2 separate regions of the Homo sapiens genome follow, and region 1 is linked to region 2. Evidence: fine-mapped expression QTL. A gene starts in region 2. The other region holds a variant in brackets. All regions are shown on one strand. Distances are between the middles of the regions. Region 1 overlaps DENND5B (DENN domain containing 5B). Region 2 holds the start of DENND5B (DENN domain containing 5B).

Region 1 (9,247 bases), 55 kb before region 2:
CTGGGATTACAGGCGTGAGCCACCGTGCCCAGCCAGCTCTAACTTGTATTAACTCATTTAATTCACATATACTATGGTAAAATGATTTTTTTTTCTGAGATGAACTCCTTGGACTGACAGTAAGCACTATAGGTTTACTTTAGGGTTTGAGTCAGAAGTTACTTCCATAAGAAAAGTCTTTTAAGTCCTGATTCCTGGCATCATGCTATTGTGGCTATAGTCAACCCAGAATTACATTCCTTCCAGAATGAATTGAAGAATCTCATTAAGTTCAAAATTCACTTAAATACTGACGGACCCTGCAACTTCCTTGATCCGCCCAGCAGAAACTGAGCTTATATCTCCATTCTACTCACTACAACAGAAAAGCTGGAACTGGCCTAGAAGTAAAATCAGAATAGAGAGATACTTGTAGGCTACTTATTTGGAGACATGAAGGTCTTCAGCCAGACCTTACAGAGAATTACTTCACTTACTCAGGTAACGTTTATGGAGCCATTTCACTGTGCTGTGTACTGGAAATATAATAGAAAATAAAAAAATACACCAGGGGACAAAAAATAACAAATGCCTGCTCTCATGGAATTTCCAGTTTGGGGAGAAGACTGACATTAATCAAAGGAATGCAATTATGACTACATGGCTATAAACTGAGATAATTCTCTGAAGAAAGAAGCACAGTTTACTTAATGTTGATTAAAATAAAGGGGTGGCATGGAGTACTCTGGGATGTCAGAGACTTCCCTGAGTGACAGATGCCTGACCTAGGACTTAAAGAATAATTAGTCATTAATTAGGCAAAGACTGGGGGATAGGGGGAGTAGGTAAGAAGCATTCCAAAATCAAAATAAGCCCAATGTGTCTGGAGGGCAAAGATACAGGAAGAGAGGGGAGGTTTAAGACAAGAGGGTGGGCAGGGCTTGCTAACATATTTAGGCTCATAGACCTCAATATAACAGCAATGGAAAAATCACTGAGGTGGCTTTAAGTGGTGTAGAAGAGACCAGGCAGGGAGGGGGAAAAATTCTCATTCTAAAAAGATCATTCTGGCTTCACTATGGAGAACACAGATGGGAGAATGGTCAGGATAGACCTGTGAGAAAATTAGTGAGTTATATAGTAGTGAAATAGGGAGGTGGGAGAATGATAGAGAGAAGCAGGTAGATTTGAGACCTATACAGGAGATAAAATTGATGGTACCTGATAAGTTATTGAGGATAAAATTAGATATGGGGGAATTGGGAAAAATAAAGTATTCAGAACTTCTAAGTTTCTGGCTTTGGCAACTAGTTAGATTGTGGTACCAACTTGTTCAAAAACGGAAGGCTGGAAGAGGATCTGGTTTGAAATGAAAGCATGTTCCATCTCAGATATGTTGATGATTATTTCACTGGCTGAATTATTTTGTACAATGAGAGAAAAGGTTCCCGTGGGACCAGAAGACCTAGGATCAAGTTCTGGGTTCAGACATTATAAACAGGACTCTGATTTTAACAAGTCACAATTTGTAGGCATCGGTTTTCTGAGGCTTATTTCATTGACTTGGACTACATCACCTGCAGTTCTTTCCTAAGCTTTGGAGACTAAGAGCTTGCACAAGTCATTGGATAATCATCCTTTTGATCTGATTAAAGAAACTACATGTAAATAAGCTCACATTAAATATTGTGAGCTATTAAATATTGTTAAAATATGAATGCTTAAATTTGCCCTCCTATTACAGCAGGCTCTCCAAATCCACAGTTCTGCATCTGAAGATATGACCAACTGTGGATTGAAAATATTTGAAGAAAAAAAAACAATTTAAAAAGCCAATACAACAACAAAAAATACAGTACAACAAATAAAAAATACAGTACATGCTATTTACATGGCATTTACATTGTATTAGCTATTGTAAGTAATCTAGAAATCATTTTTGTTGTTAAAACTTATACTTTATTTTCTTGAATGTTTATATTATGCTTTTTGTCACTATCCATACTGTTTTTAAGCCTGAGCCACTGTGTGGTTTCAGCCTCAATATAATAATCATCCCCTCACTTTTAGAATTCCTTTTCCCTTATCACTTTGCTTTGTAAGGTTTCTATAAAACAAAGACCTTGGAAAATCAACATTTCCTGTGAACTCAAGAGATTATGTAAGCAGTGCCCAAATCAGCAGGATTAGGCAGGTAAAAGCAGTTGGATGGCAGATACACTATGATCTCTTTGACCACAATGTAGTTGTATGCATGTCTAAAAGGTCATACTGATTCACCATTAGAATAAAGATCACATGTAGGTTGACCAGGGAGGACTATCCACAGAATTGTGTGAACTGTGGTAGGGGAGGCAGTATACAACATTCATGGATGAAACACCTAGCTAACTGCTTTCCTAAAAATTATCTATTGTCTAAAAGACAAACATCTAGGCTTTTTAGTGTTTTTTTTTTTTCCTTTAACTTATGAAGATTCAAGTCACTAATATGTTAGTTCTTCTGGTTTAAAATGAAAGTAACTGGCTATGGTAATGTAGAGAAGACAGATGACTGCATCAATATTTAAGACTTAAATTTTGAGTTACCTCACCTTATAAAAATATATATCAATATACTAAATACTCAACAAAGATCCAGGATGTACAGTATTTAAAAATACATTTCTCTTGGATCAGCACCAAAAATAATCAGTTTCTGTTCAACTTGTGTCAAGTTTTTTTTTTGTCGGTTTTTTGAGGCTGAGTCTCACTTTGTGGCCCAGGCTGGAGTGCAGTGGTGCGATCTCGGCTTACTGCAACCTCTGCCTTCCAGGTTCAAGCGATTCTCATGCCTCAGCCTCCCAAGTAGCTGGGATTACAGACATGTGCCACGATACTCAGCTTTTTATTTTTATTTTTACTTTTATTTTGTATTTTTAGTAGAGACAGGGTTTCACCATGTTGGCCAGGCTGGTCTCGAACTCCTGACCTCAAGTGATCTGCCTGCCTCGGCCTCCCAAAGTCATGTCAAGTTTTTAGGTCTAGGCAAGTTAAAATTATCTCTGATAAAAATCACGAGCTCCACAAAAATAATTAAAGATATATCCAAACATCTTTCAAATACATTCTGATATCAGGTCAGGCATTTCACTTTAAAGAACATAATAGTAACTACCTTACCACTGAATTTTTGTAGTAAGACGTTTTAAATCAACTTTGTCTTATGGGAATATTTTATATCTTGCACGAAGGAGCCACTGGTACTTAGACACCTAAAATTACTAGAACCATTAAGACTGAGGTGAAGAATTTGTATAGCCTTCCACCATTACAAAGAAGGAGTGATAGATACTTGTCCTCCTGGCAATATCAAATGCCGTTTCTTTGAAGTTGTTTTTCAGCCCTGGTTTGATGTAATGGTTCATCAGGAGGAGTTCTAGGTTATCTTTGCTGTCTCCTTTCCCAGCAGCAAGATGCAAAGGGGTCAAGAGGCTTTGGTTTGATTAACTGGGTGTGGCGGCGTGTGCCTGTAGTCCCAGCTACTTGGGAGGCTGAGGCAGGAAGATAGCTTGAACCTGGGAGGTGGAGGTTGCAGTGAGCGCAGATTGCACCACTGCACCCAAGCCTGGGTGACAGAGCAAGACTCTGTCTCAAAAAAAAAAAAAAAAAAAAAAAAAAAAAGGCTTTTGTTTGGGCATTGATATCTGCATCACACTGAGGTAAGAAAGAAGCCACTCTGGTACCACTTGCAAGTACTGTGCAGGGGTGTCCAGCCATCCGCCATCACTGCATGAACATCTGCCTCTTGTGCTATCAGCTCAGGGACCTAAGTGTCCACTGCAGGCTACTTAATGAACACTAGGGATAAAGATATACTCATGGCTTCCAGTCTGACCCAGCACAGTCCCAGTGGTGGTAGCCACAGGGGTGACTCTGTCACCCCACCCCACCTCCAGGTGAATTAGCACAGAGAAAGAGAGAGAGAGAGACACACACACACACACACATATATACACATACACACACACACACACTCTGACTCAGTTTGTCTGGGAGAAAGTAAGCGAAGAGAACCAGAGTCTCTGCCTGGTAATCCAGAGAATTCATCCAGGTCTTATCCGAAACTACCAAGGTGGTAACTCTACAAATCCGCAAGAACCACAGGTTACTGGGCTTGGG[A/G]TGCCCCCTAAGGCAGACACGGCTTAGATCTCAATACCCAAGTTCAAATACCTGGAAAGCCTTCCTAAGAAGAGTGGGTAAAAAAAAAGTCTAGACTGCAAAGACTACAGTAAATACCTGACTCTTCAATGCCCAGACACCAACAAACATCCGCAAGTATCAAGACCATCCAGGAAAACATGACCTCACCAAATGAACTAAACAAGGTAGCAAGGACCAATCTTGGAGAAACAGAGATATGTGACTGATATGGTTTGAATCTGTATCCCCACCAAATATCATGTCAAATTATAATCTCCAATGTTGGAGGTGGGGCCTGGTGGGAGGCGACTGGATCATGAGGGTGGTCCTTGACGAATGGTTTAGAGCCATCCCCTCGGTACTGTTCCTCCTGATAGTGAGTTATCGCAAGATCTGGTTGTTTAGAAGTGTGTAGCAGCTCTCCGCCCCTCTTCCTCCTGCTTCTAATCATGTGAGACGTCTTGCTCCCACTTTGACTTCCACCATGATTCTAAGTTTCCTGAGGCACCCCCAGAAGTCGAGCAGATGTCAGAATCACGTTACCTGTACAGCCTGTGGAAACATAGGCCAATTAAACCTCTTTTATTTATAAATTTCCCAGTCTCAGATATTTATAGCAATGCGAGAATGGACTAATACAGTGACCTTTCAGACAGAGAATTCAAATAGCTGTTTTGAGAAAACTCAACAAAATTCAAGATAACACGGAGAAGGAGTTCAGAATTCTATCAGAAAAATTTAACAAAGAGATTTAAATAATTAAAAAAGAACTACGCAGAAATTCTGGAGTTGAAATATGCAACTGACATATTGAAGAATGCATCAGAGTTTTTTAATAGCAGAAGGATCAAGCAGAAGAAAGATTTAGTGAGCCTGAAGACAGACTATTTGAAAATACAGTCAGAGGAGACACAAGAAAAAAGAGTAAGAATGAAGTACACCTACAAGATCTAGAAAATAGCCTCAAAAGGGCAAACCTAAGAGTTACTGGTCTTCAGGAGGAGGCAGAAAAAGAGATAGGAATAGAAGATGTATTTAAAAAAAAAAGTTTATTCAAAGAAATAATAGCAGAAACCTAGGAAAGGTTATCAATATCCAAATATAAGAAGATTACAGAACACCAAGCAGATTTAACCCAAAGAAAGCTATCTCAAGCCATTTCATAATCAAATTCCCAAAGGTCAAGGATAAAGAAAGAATCCTAAAAGCAGCAACAGAAAAGAAACAATATACAACTGAACTCCAATACATTTGGCAGCAGATTTTCAGTGGAATCCTTACAGGCCAGAAGAGAGTTGCATAACATATTTAAAGTGCTGAAGGAAAAAAACTTTTACCCCAGAATAATTTATCTGGCTAAAATATACTTCAAACATAGAGAAATAAAGACTTTCCCAGACAAACAAACACTGAGGGATTTCATCAACACCAGATCTAGCCTAGAAGAAATGCTAACAGGTGTACTTCAATCAGAAAGAAAAGGACACTAATGAGCATTAAGAAATTATCTCAAGGTACAAAACTCACTGGTAACAGTAATTATATAGAGAAACACAGAATAACACTGTAACTGTGGTGTGTAAATTACTCTTATTTTAAGTAGACTAAAAGATAAATCAAAAATAACTACAACAACTTTTCAAGACACAGACAGTACAATAAGATATAAATAAAAACAACAAAAAGTTAGAAAGCAGGGGGATGAAGTTAAGGTGTAGAGTTTTTATTAGTTTTCTTTTTGCTTGTGTGTTTATGAAAACAGTGTTAGGCTATCAGTGTAAAATAATAGGTTATAAGATAGTATTTGCAAGCATCATGGTAACCTCTAATCAAAAAACATACAACAGATACGCTGAAAATAAAAAATAAGAAATTAAAATCATACCACCAGAGAAGATTACCTTCACTAAAAGGAAGACAGGGAGGAAGGATGGAAGACAAGACCCATAAAACAACCAGAAAATAAGTAACAAAATGGAAGGAATAAGCCCTTGCTCATCAATAACAACACTGAATGTAAATGGACTACATTCTCCAATAAAAAGACAGAGTGGCTGAAGGGATTAAAAAAACAAAAAACAAAAAAACAAGACTCAGTGATCTGTTGCCTACAAGAAGCACATTTCACCTACAAAGACACACATAGACTGAAAATAAAAGGATGGAAAAACACATTCCATGACAATGGAAATCAAAAAAGACTAGGAGTAGCTATACGTATATCAGACGAAATAGATTTCAAGACAAAAACTATAAGAAGAGACAAAGAAGGTCACTATATAATGATAAAGGGGGCAATTCAGCAAGAAGATGTAACAATTGTAATTGTATATGGACCCAACACTGGATCCATATACCAGTGTTGGAGCACCCAGATACATAAAGCAAATATTGTTACAGCTAAAAAGAGAGACAGACCCCAATATAATAATAGCTGGTAACTTCAACATCCCATTTTCAGCGTTGGACAGATCTTCCAGAGAGAAAATCAATGAACATCAGACTTAATCTGTACCAAATGGACCTAATCAGACCAAATGGACCTAATAGATACATACATAACATTTCATCCCAAAGCTGCAGAGTACACATTCTTTTTCCTCAGCACATGGATCATTCTCAAGGATGGACCATATGTTATGTCACAAAACAAGTCTTAAAACATTTAAAAAAACTGAAATAATATAAAGCATCTTCTCTGACCACAATAGAATAAAACTAGAGATCAATAATAAGTGGAATTATTGAAAATTTTCTTGAAATAAATGATAAAGGAAACACAACATACGAAAAGCTATGGGATACAACAAAAGCAGTACTGAGAGGCAAGTTTATAGCTATAAGTGCCTACATCAAAAAAGAAAAAAACCTCAAATAAACAACTATTTAATGATGTATATTAAAGAACTAGAAAAGCAAGAGCAAACCAAACCCCAAATTAGTAGAAGAAATAATAAAAATCAGGCCAGGCGCAGTGGCTCACGCCTGTAATCCCAGTACTTTGGGAGGCTGAGACAGGTGGATCACTTGATGTCAGGAGTTCAAGACAAGCCTGGACAACTTGGTGAAACCCCATCTCTACTAAAAATACAAAAAAATTAGCCGGGCATGGTGGTGTGCACCTGTAATCTCAGTTACTCGGGAGGCTGAGGCAGGAGGATAGCTTGAACCTGGGAGGTGGAGGTTGTAGTGAGCCGAGATTGTGCCACTGCACTCCAGGGTGGGCAACAGAGTGAGATTTCATCTCAAAATACAAAACAAAACAAAAAATAAAGATCAGAGCAGAAATAAGTGAAACTGAAACAAAAAAAATACAAAACTTCAATGAAACAAAAGGTTTTTTTTTTTTTGAAAAAAAAAATTGACAAACTGCTAGACAGACTAAGAAAAAGAGAAGACACAACTAAGTAAAACCAGAGATAAAGAAGGAAACATTCAACTGATACCACAGAAATTCAAAGGATCATTAGTGGCTGCTATGATCAACTATATGCCAATAAATGAGAAAATCTAGAGAAAATGGATAAATTCCTAGATACTACAACCTACCATGATTGAACCATGAAGAAATCCAAAACCTGAACAAACCAATAACAAGCAACAACATCAAAGCCATAATAAAAAATCTCCCAGTAAAGAAAAGCCTGGGACCTGATGGCTTCACTACAGAAGTCTACCAAACATTTAAAGAACGAATACCAATCCTACTCAAACTATTCTGAAAACTAGAGGAGGAGGGAATAATTCCAAACTCACTCTATGAGGCCTGTATACCAAAATCAAAGACATATTACATATTAAAAGAAAAAAAATTACAGACCAATATCACTGATGAAAATTGATGCAAAAATCCTCAACAAAATACTAGCAAACCAAATTCAACAACACATTAAAAAGATCATTCATCATGACTAAATAGGATTTATCCCAGGGATGCAAGGATAGTTCAACATATGCAAATCAATCAATCTGATATATCATCATATCAACAAAATGAAGAACAAAAACCATATGATCATTTCAATGGATGCTTAAAAAGCACTTGATAACATTCAACATCCCTTCATAATAAAAACCTTAAAAAAACTTGGTATAGAAGAAACATATCTTAATATAATTACACCATATATGACAGACTCTCAGCTAGTATCATACTGATGAGGAAAAAAAAAAACCTTTCCTCTGAGATCTGGAATACAACAAGGATATCCACTTTCACCACTGTTATTCAACACGGTACTAGAAGTCCTAGCTAGAGCAATCAGACAAGAGAAAGATATAAAGGGTATCCAAATTGGAAAGGAAGGAGTCAAGTTATCCTTGTTTGCAGATGATATGATCTCGTATTTGGAAAAACCTAAAGACTCCACCAAAAAACTATTAGAACTCATACAAAATCAGTAAAGCTGCAGGATACAAAATCAACCTACAAAAATCTAGCATTTCTATAGGCCAATAGCAAACAATCTAAAAAAGAAATCAAGAAAGTAATCCCATTTACAATAACTACAAATAAAATTAAATACCTAGGAACTAACCAAATAAGTGAAAAGTCCCTACAATGAAAACTAAAACACTGGAGCAAGAAATTGAAAAGGACACAAAAAACTGGAAAGACATTCCATATTCATGGGTTGGAAAACTCAATATTGTTAAAATGCCCATTCTCCCCAAAGCAATCTACAGATTTCATGCAATCCCTATAAAAATACCAATAATGTTCTTCACAAAAGTAGAAAAAACAATTCTAGGCCAGGCGTGATGCCTCATGCCTGCAATCCCAGTGCTTTGGGAGGCCAAGGTGGGCAGATCACTTGAGGCCAAGAGTTCCAGACCAGCCTGGCCAACATGGTAAGACATCGTCTCTACTAAAAATACAAAAATTAGCCAGGTGAGGTGGCGACTACCTGTAATCCTAGCTACTCAGGAGGCTGAGGCACAAGAATCGCTTGAACCTGGGAGGCAGAGGTTGTAGTGAGCCAAGACTGTGCCACTGCACTCCAGCCTGGGCGACACAGTCAGACTCTGTCCCGCCCCCCAACCCCCCCACCAAAAAAAAAAGAAAAGAAGAGAAAAAAACAAACCTA
Region 2 (9,247 bases):
CAAAGTACCTCTTGAAAATATACAGTGGGTAGGAGAAGCACAAGAACTTCGATGTGGTACAGAAAGGACGACAGGTAATATGAGTATATCAGTATATACATGTGGACATCACCATAAAGTTTCTAAGTCCTCCATTTTAAAATATATTTTTATGTATATAGTTAAATTATTTTCAGCTATTAAGAGTTCTACGTATTTGAGATGAAAGAAGTCTCTTCCATTGCTGTTTAAGCTTGGTTTTACTAGGAGGGTCTAAAAACCATTTGAAGCCTTGATAAGTTTTATTATAAGGTCTTAGTCTATTTAACTGTTGTTGTCTTTGATTTCAATGTCCCACCACCTGCAGAGTGTGAATTCTAGGAATATGCGTATGTTAAGAAAGTCTATGAAGCAACTGGTAGAATTTATGTTTAATAGAAGTCAATTAAGACCTTCTAGAGGCACGGTGACAACTTGCTAAGAAAGTGTGATAAAGACAGATCAGCTCCAGCAAGGCAAAATAGAAACTTGACTATCATTAACTTTGAAATTAATGCAGCAAAACAGAAACTACCTTCTGGCTAATTTGCCTAACACAGTTTCATGATCCCCAAATGTTGCTCTACGGAAATAGTCAAGAAAATTCTTAGTTGAGAACATGATATGACATTCTCCTGTTTTCCTGCCATGTCACTATCCACACTCCTTAATCTCCTCGGTTGCCTCCTCCTCCTCATCCTCCCCACCTATGCATGCTAGAATGGCCCCAGGGCTCAATCATTTGCGTGTCCTCCTCTCTTTTCTATCTATACTCAACCCTTAAGTAATTTCATGGCTTTAAATTTATACCTACAGTCCAGATCTTCCCCCAAGAGATGTCTTGTCTATGTGACATCTCCATTTGAATGTCTAATGGACACATCAAACTTAATACATCCAAAACTGAACTGATTTCCAGTCTGATTCTCCATCAGTCTTCCTATTTCAGGAGAGAAGTTTATAATTGTTCAGCCCCAAAATCTTGGAGTCATCTTTGATCACTTCTTTGAATATGACTACCATATTCATAGAATTCATACATATTCATATAAATCATCAGCAAATCTCGTTGGGCCTACCTTCAACATCTATCTAGAATCTGAGTCCTTCCTGCTGCTTCACCAAGCCAACAACTTCTCTCACCACAAATACCTTTTTTTTTTTTTTTTTTTTTTTTTTTTTTTTTTTTTTTGAGACAGAGTCTCCCTCTGTTGCCCAGGCTGGAGTGCAGTGGCACGATCTCAGCTCACTGCAACCTCCACCTCCTGGGTTCAAGCGATTCTCCTGCCTCAGCCTCCAGAGTAACTGGGATATTACAGGCATGTGCCACCACGCCCAGCTTTTTGTATTTTCAGGTGAGATGTGGTTTCACCATATTGGCCAGGCTGGTCTTGAACTCCTGACCTCAAGTGATCCACCTGCCTCGGCCTTCCAAAGTGCTAGGATTATAGGCGTGAGCCACAGCATCCAGCCTCTCACCTCAAATACTGAAAGAGCTCCCTAACTGGTCTCTTGCCTCTACCCCTGCCCTGATATAGTCTACCCAACATGGCAGCCACAACAGTCATTTTAGAAGGCACATCAGATCTTGTCATTACTCTGCTCAAAACCTTCCAATACTTTCCCATCTCAGAGTTAAAAGCCTAAAAACTGCATGAGGCCCTATACAATCTCCCCTGCCCTTTCTCTTTGATCTTACCTACTACTCTCCCTCTCCCTCAGCTCCAGCCATACTGGACTCCTTGCTGTTACCAGCACAAACTAGTGACTGTCCCACTCAGGGTCTTCGCACTTGCTGTTTCTTCTGCGTGCAATGCTGTGCCCCCAGGTGATCCATCTGGCCTGCTTCCTCATGTCCTTCAAGGCTCTGTTCAAATGTCACCCTCCCTGTGAGGCCTTCCCTAACCATCTTATTTAAAATCACAACCCCACCATCCCACCACTCTGCTGGCATGTCCCTAAATCCACTCCCCTGCTTTATTTTTCCTCATAGCACTTATTAACATCTGGAGAACTATATACAGTCGGCACTTCACGTGGACTCCGCATCCACAGATTCAACCAAGCACAGATTGAAAATGTAGTTAGGCCTACAATGGTTGCATCTGTACTGAACATGTACAGACTTCTTTTCTTGTCATTATTCCCTAAACAATACAGTATAACAACTATTTACATAACATTACAACGTAACAGGTATTGTAAGTAATCTAGAGATGACAAAGTGTACAGGAAAATGTTCATAGGTTATATACAAATGCTACAACATTTTATTATAAGAGACTTCAGCATCCGAGGATTTTGGTGTGGGGGACACTCTAGAATCCATCCCCCATGGTTACGGAGAGATGATTGTATTTTCATTATCTCTTTACACTAGAACGTATGCTCCATGATGGCAGGGATTTCTGACTGCTTTCTTCACAGCTGTCCCCAGTGCCTAAAAAACCGACTACAGATAGATGCTTTCAAAACTGTTGGATGAATGATACTGAAATATTACAAGGCAAAATACATTATTACCTGAATACATTAAATATTATGAGAAGCAGAAATCCCAATCACCCACACTCACACAGTTTTGCAAAAAGAGACATCATAGTTTGTTTCTTAAAAATGCATTAAAGTCTAATTGATGGTTTTGTTAACATCATTCTCTCTGTGCCTAAAGAGTCCTAGGTCACACCTAAAAGGTACAGTTTTAGCTTCAGTAGGCAAACGGAAAAGAAAAATACAGGCTTTTTTCCTTTCATTAGTCATCACTGACAGAAGGCCTCCAAGTGACCCTGGTGCCACAAATGTTTAGGATCTTTAGGGAAGAAAGGAGTCTAGAAAAATAACAATATTCCTTCACCAATCTCGAGAAGAATCTCTCCAAATCTCTCTGCAGACATTTTTTCTTCATATCCTTTAACAAAGCCATTCTTAACATGTACATGAAATCTTAGTTGAAGAAACAATGTGATTACATAATTACACATACGGAAAAACTTGGTATTCTATTATCTCTCCAAATTTTTTTTTAACTAAAACTAGACTTACAGTTTTTGTTGAAAATGTTTTGTGTTTCTACCTCCGAAGAATATGAAAAAAAGAAAATGTTTTGCTCTGAAGCTGAGTTAAGAAGAAGATAGCCAAGACGTGGGTTGATGGGGACTGTATTTTAAGGCTGAACAGTTTTGTTTACTATTGTTTATTATTTAATATATTCTTCCCAGTCTCCCCACCCCCACCAAAGGAAAAGCGAAAAATTTACGTTAGTGCAATCAATAAGGAATTATTTGTCCAAAGGAAGTTGTTCTGAAAGGCTATGACCTAAGTCTTTAACACAAAGTTCAGGCGGTAGATGTCACTTCTCTCACCCATTTAACAACAACAACAAATCAAGATTCAGATCCCGCGGAGGCAAGCAGAAAGGAACAGGCGTGAAAAATGAAATCAGTTGTTTCTCCCCGGCCTCCTCTCGACACTGCGCACTCCGCTGCCCTGCCCCCGCCCATCGCCCTTTAGCGGCCCCTTTTAACGGCGTCGTTTGCCCAGCACAGCCCCGCACTGCGCCATCAAATGAGTCAAGCGGAAGGACCGGTACCCCTCCGGGAAAACCAGGCACTAACACACGGTGCACCCAACTGAATTTAAACTCGGGAACAGTGTAGGCAGTGTCAACAAAGCGCGGTGCTGGGTCCCGAGCGTCCAAAGGTCCCTGCCAGCTCCCAGACGCGGCCAAATCCACAGGATTCCAAAAGGTGACTTGGCCGGCACCGCAGAGCGGCAGGCGGCGCAGAGGGCAGAGTCCGACCGGTCCCCGCCCCGCGCTCGCTCCGCACGGCCACCGGCTCCTCCGCGGACGCTACCCCGGCGGGAGCCGAGCTGAGTCCGACTCCCCGTCTCCCGAAGAGGCCCGAAAGCCGCGTCACGTGCGGGGCCGAAACTTCGCGGCCGGGGCCGGGTGGCTGGCGGGTGGGAGGCAGGCACGGCGGTCGGGGGGCAGCCCGCGCGCCCGGTGACTCACCGGCCGCCTCCGAGTGCGGCTGCAAGCGAAGGGGCCGGCGCGCCAGGCGGGGTCCGTGCCCTTGGGGCCACCCCCGCGCCTGTTATTAATAACCCAGCGCCTGGAGGCGAAAGCCCCGGTGGGCGCAGCCGCAAAGCCCGCACGCGGAATAAATAACAATGTCATTAAATCGCGCCCGAGCGCCAGTTCGGCCAGAAAGCGGCGGGAGGGCGCCACCGGGAGCTGACTTTGTCTGGAGCCTGCACCCCGCCTCCCGCGCGTCCCCACAGCGTCCCCCGCGCCCCTGAGGGGGCTCAGCGCCGCCGCAGCCCTGGCCTTACCCGCCAGCTCGTCAGGCTCCAGCCCGCTGTCCGCGTCGATCCCGCACAGCACGAAGTAGTGCGCGAAGCGGCAGGCGGCCGGGGAGGAGCCCGAGCCCGGGCCGGGCGCCGCGCAGCTCCCGCTCATCCCGGCCGCGCTGCTCCAGGGGCCGCCGCCGCCGCCGCCCGGGAAGGCTTTCTGCGGAGGCTGCCACCACCGCTCCGGCTGTGGTCTGTGCGCCCGCCCTAGGGCGACACTGGCGCGCCCATGGCCGCGCAGCCGCCTCTCGCCGCCGCAGCCTGCCTCCTCGCTCGGCGCGGGGGAAGCGGCCGCGGGCTCGCGCGCGGCGGGTCCGGAGCCCGGCCGGGTGGGGGAGGGGCGCGGGGGGAGTGTCGGCCTGAGAGGCCCTCGCAGCCGCAGCTGCGCTCGCGAGCTGAGAGCCGCCGCGTCTGGCGCCCGCGGGTCAGCTGAGCGGCGCTCGGGCTGTGGGAGCGCGGGGCGGGCGGGGGCGCCGGGGCTCGGCGCGTGCGACGGAGAGGGGTGGGGGGCGCGCTCGCGAGGGACGGAGGCGCGCGCTTCTACCGTGCGCGCGCGCCTAGCGGGTTCGGAGGCCAAGCCTGGCGTGGGGCCGCATTCGTGCCCACTGGCCCCGGCTGCGGCATCGAGGGCGACCCTGCACACACCCCTCCTCGCCCTGGCCAGCCGATAAGAGGGCTAGCCTCAGTGTGGGGGTCTGTCTTCTAAAGGGGTTGTCACCCATCCTTATTTCTTTTAATGCAGCTTTGGGGAAGGTGAACAGCCGCTCTGAGATCATTTCGCATAACGGTCTGAACCATCGTCTTTTAAACTGTGACCTGTGTGGGGGTGCCTGTCTCACTTTAAGGTCCTCCCTTCCCCCAGCCGTCACCCCATTTACAGGCCATCCTTAGTGACTTAGTGACAAGTCAACCGTGAGGGGGAAAAAACACAACTCAATACCCACAAAGCGTTGAGACTTCTAGAAGGAGTGCAGTCACCAACCCCCGCCTTCTGTCATTTATCCTGACATTTTCCAGGTCAGTGTAAATAGCCAAGGCGCTCCAGTTCCGCAGCCCTGTACCCATCCGATGTTATCGGCTCTCCCCGCAAGTAACAATCGGAGGCTAAAGCAACAGGAATTAGACCATGAACTCTGCTCCTCCCAAAGGCACGGCTTTCTTGCCCTGCTCAGCTGTCTTTTGCCTTCTCGGAAGGAACTCGACAACCAGTTCTTTTTCCTTTGAAAGAAAACTGGCTGGGCTCAGTGGCTCACACCTGTAATTTACTCAACACTTTGGGAAGCCCAGGTAGGAAGATCACATGAGACCAGGAGTTCAAGACCAGCCTGGGCAATAGAGGGAGACTCTGTCTCCATCTAAGTAAAAAAATAACATTTATTTATTTAAAAAATAATTTTTTAAGAGACAGGGTCTCACTGTATTGACCAGGCTGCTCTCAAACTCCTGGGTTCAAGTGATCCTCCCGCCTTGGCCCCCAAATGTGCTAGGATTACAGGCATAATAAGCCACTGTGCCCGGCCATGTAAGTAAAAATAAAACTTAAAAGATAGAAAACTGAATGCAATTCATCTCCACATGGCAACCCCTTCCACACCACTCCCTGCTTTCTTCTTTGGGGATTTGGGGCATCTACCACTAGACATACAAGCAAACCTTCCAGAGAGGTTGCCTGAGAGAACCTCGATTATTTGACTGAATAATGTTCTTCCTAGAAGATACATGTGCGTGCATACCATCATTTAATGTAGCTTGTATCTTCACTTTCTTTCTTCAATTTTGAAATGAAAGAGGCTGGCCATGGTGGCTCAGGCCTGTAATCCCAGCACTTTGAGAGGCCAAGGCAGGAGGAGCATTTGAGTCCAGGAATTCAAGACCAACCTGGGCAAAATAGTGAGAGACCCTGTCTCTATAAAAATAAAATGAGGCCGGGTGCAGTGGCTCAAGCCTGTAATCCCAGTCCTTTCGGAGGCCAAGGCGAGAGGCTCACTTGAGGTCAGGAGTTTGAGACAAGCCTGGCCAACATGGTGAAACTCCGTCTCTACTAAAAAAAAAAAAAAAAAAAAAAAATCAATAAAATAATAATTAGTAAAATATAAGAAGAATTGGCCGGGTGCAGTGGCTCATGTCTGTAATCCCAGCACTTTGGGAGGCCAAGGCGGGCGGATCACGAGGTCAGGAGACCGAGACCATCTTGGCCAACATGGTGAAGCCCTGTCTCTACTAAAAATACAAAAAATTAGCCAGTGTGGTGGCACGCACGTGTGGTCCCAGCTACTCGGGAGGCTGAGGCAGGAGAATCACTTGAACCTGGGAGGCGGAGATTAGAGTGAGCCGAGATCGCGCCACTGCACTCCAGCCTGGGCAACAGAGTAAGACTGTCTCAAAAAAAATAAGAAAAGAAAAGAAAATACAAGAAGAATCAAGAAATCAGGGTGAGCCACAGTCTGGGTAATTGACCTTTAGGTCATGTTGCACCCTGTACTTCTTCAAAAACACTTGTAATGGCTTTTCTGTGTCTTCTTAGCTGTGTTGTAAACTCCACAGAGCAAGAGTTGGACTCTGTGGTTCTTCACTTTTCTGGTATCTAGCAGAACTCTGGTCCTATTTAGCCCCTCAATTTATATTTGAGTGTTGAAAGAAGAGCAGTTATCTAGGTGATAACAGGTTGTTGATTCTACCAGAAAAATATACAAACTTTAATATCTGTAACATTTTTTAAAAAATAAGTCCTGGGCTGGGCATGGTGGCTCACACCTGTAATCCGAGCACTTTGGGAGGCCGAGGCAGGTGGATCACATGAGGTCGGGAGTTCGAGACCAGCCTGATCCACATGGTGAAGCCCCGTCTGTACTAAAAATACAAAAATTAGCCAGGTGTGGTGGTGCACACCTGTAATCCCAGCTCTACTTGGGAGGCTGAGGCACGAGAATCACTTGAACCCGGGAGGCAGAGGTTGCAGTGAGCCAAGATCATGCCACTGCACTCCAGGTGACAGAGTGAGACTCTGTCTCAAAAAATAATAATAAAATAAAGATTAAAAAATAAATAAAAATAAAAATAAGCTCCACATATGCAAGGCCTCAAAACTTGGTCAGGCCAGGTACGGTGGCTCACGCCTGTAATCCCAGCACTTTGGGAGGCCGAAGGGGGCAGATCACCTGAGGTCAGGAGTTCAAGACCAGACTGGCCAACGTGGTGAAACCCTGTCTCTATTAAAAATACAAAAATTAGCCTGGCATGGTGGTGAGTGCCTGTAGTCCCAACTACTTGGGGGGCTGAGACAGAAGAATGGCTTGAACCCAAGAGGCAGAGGTTGCAGTGAGCCAAGATCGCACCACTGCACTCCAGCCTGGGCAACAGAGCAAAACTCCGTCTCAAACAAAACAAAACAAAACTTAGTCAAAAACTCAGAATTGTTCCCTTCCACGGAAATCTTTAGTAAAAGACAAAAGACGTATACGATCTGAAGAGAAACCAGAGTATGGACCTAATTGTGAACACTTTAATTACTCTTATGCAATATTGCTTTTCCTCACGTAGAAAGTACTGAAATGCATAACATTTCATTAGTAAGGAAGGAAGTGCCAGGTATCTGTTTCTCCTGTCTTCGGTGGTAACTTCTTACAGAATGTTTGTTAGATTCCAAGCGAATCAAACAAACACAGTAAAAAAACTGATTTACTGTTTGCACTAGCCAAGGCACGTCATTTTTTTTTTAAATTTGACCAGTAACTGATTTATGAGTTTGTAAGCCCCACATTAATATTTTTAAGGTGAAAAAAATTGAATCACCAACAAACAATGCATGCAATTAAAATATACTAATCTCATAAAAATAGAATTCCTAAAATCTTTCCTAAAGCTTTTAGGAAAATAGTCACACATTACAAAATTAAACACTAATTTGAAAATATCCGTATACTTTTTTAATTATCACTTCAGGATGACACTGTGTAAGTATATTCTGCATTAAGCTACAATGAAACGAAGTTGAAAGGATACTCAAGAATTAGCTATGTATCATTATATGCAGATTGTCCTCTGAAATAATGACAGAGAAGTAAATTAGCTCAGTGAACAAAAATCTGAGCAATGATCTGCTGTCTCCAAAGGACTTACTGGTAAAGCCTCAAATGGACGGCATGGCATGCTTGGGATAGCTGAGTCCTGCCACGGTCTGCGGAAGTGGAGGAATGAGAGATTGATAGCACTGCTAAGCTGGTGGCACATGGTGACTCTGACTACCAGTAAAATGTGGTCCAATGAATGTTTTGGGCTCTAAATAGTTACATTAGCAATCAATCCCTTCTTTCTTGGTTGTTTATATGTGGCTGGAGTGTGGTGGTGAAGAACGGTGTTGACAAGGATTGTCATAGCATCAAAAGAGAAAAATAACCTCTCCTCTCCTTAACACGACTTAAATATTTTGGAGAGTCCATTCTCCTCATCGTATTTGCTACTTCTCGATCCCTTACAGCCCTCTTTTTTGGGGGGGTGGCGGGTCACTCACCCAGGCTGGAGGGCAGTGGCACAATCTCGACTCACTGCAGCCTCCACCTCCCTGGCTCAAGCAATCCTCCCACCTCAGCCTCCCAAAGAGCTGGGACCACCCACAGGCATGTGCAATCACACCCAGCTAGTTTTTTGTATTTTTGGTAGAGACAGGGTTTCACCCTGTTGCCCAGGCGGGTCTCAAACCCCTGGGCTCAAACGATCCACCTGCTTCAGTCTCCCAAAGTGCTGGGATTACAGGTTTGAGCCACCTTAGAACCCTCTTTTACCCCTTGTTGTTGTTAACCACTTTTTACTAGCTAACAATTATAATAAATTTTCGTGTTCAAATTACTGGTTTCTATCTCCTGACTAATCCATAAGCCAA

What was found.
Region 1: its variant is fine-mapped to the expression of DENND5B in blood mononuclear cells (TOPMed, PIP 0.93).

What each region holds. Positions count from the first base shown.
Region 1 is chr12:31,531,462-31,540,708 of GRCh38, forward strand. All of the region lies in intron 1 of DENND5B (DENN domain containing 5B), which reads right to left. It also overlaps the pseudogene ANKRD49P2. Among named protein-coding and RNA genes, the nearest start is that of DENND5B-AS1, 54 kb to the right of the region's middle. The variant A/G (reference allele first, on the strand shown) is at 4,140.
Region 2 is chr12:31,586,356-31,595,602 of GRCh38, forward strand. It overlaps DENND5B (DENN domain containing 5B), which reads right to left and starts at 4,781. Exons shown (of 21, transcript NM_144973.4): 1 at 4,351-4,781. The coding sequence starts at 4,477. DENND5B-AS1 (DENND5B antisense RNA 1) reads left to right here and starts at 3,568. Exons shown (of 3, transcript NR_046909.1): 1 at 3,568-3,764. It also overlaps the pseudogene RNU5F-4P. RefSeq lists enhancers at 3,302-3,381, 5,362-5,591 and silencers at 3,812-4,151, 4,302-4,571, 4,642-4,931.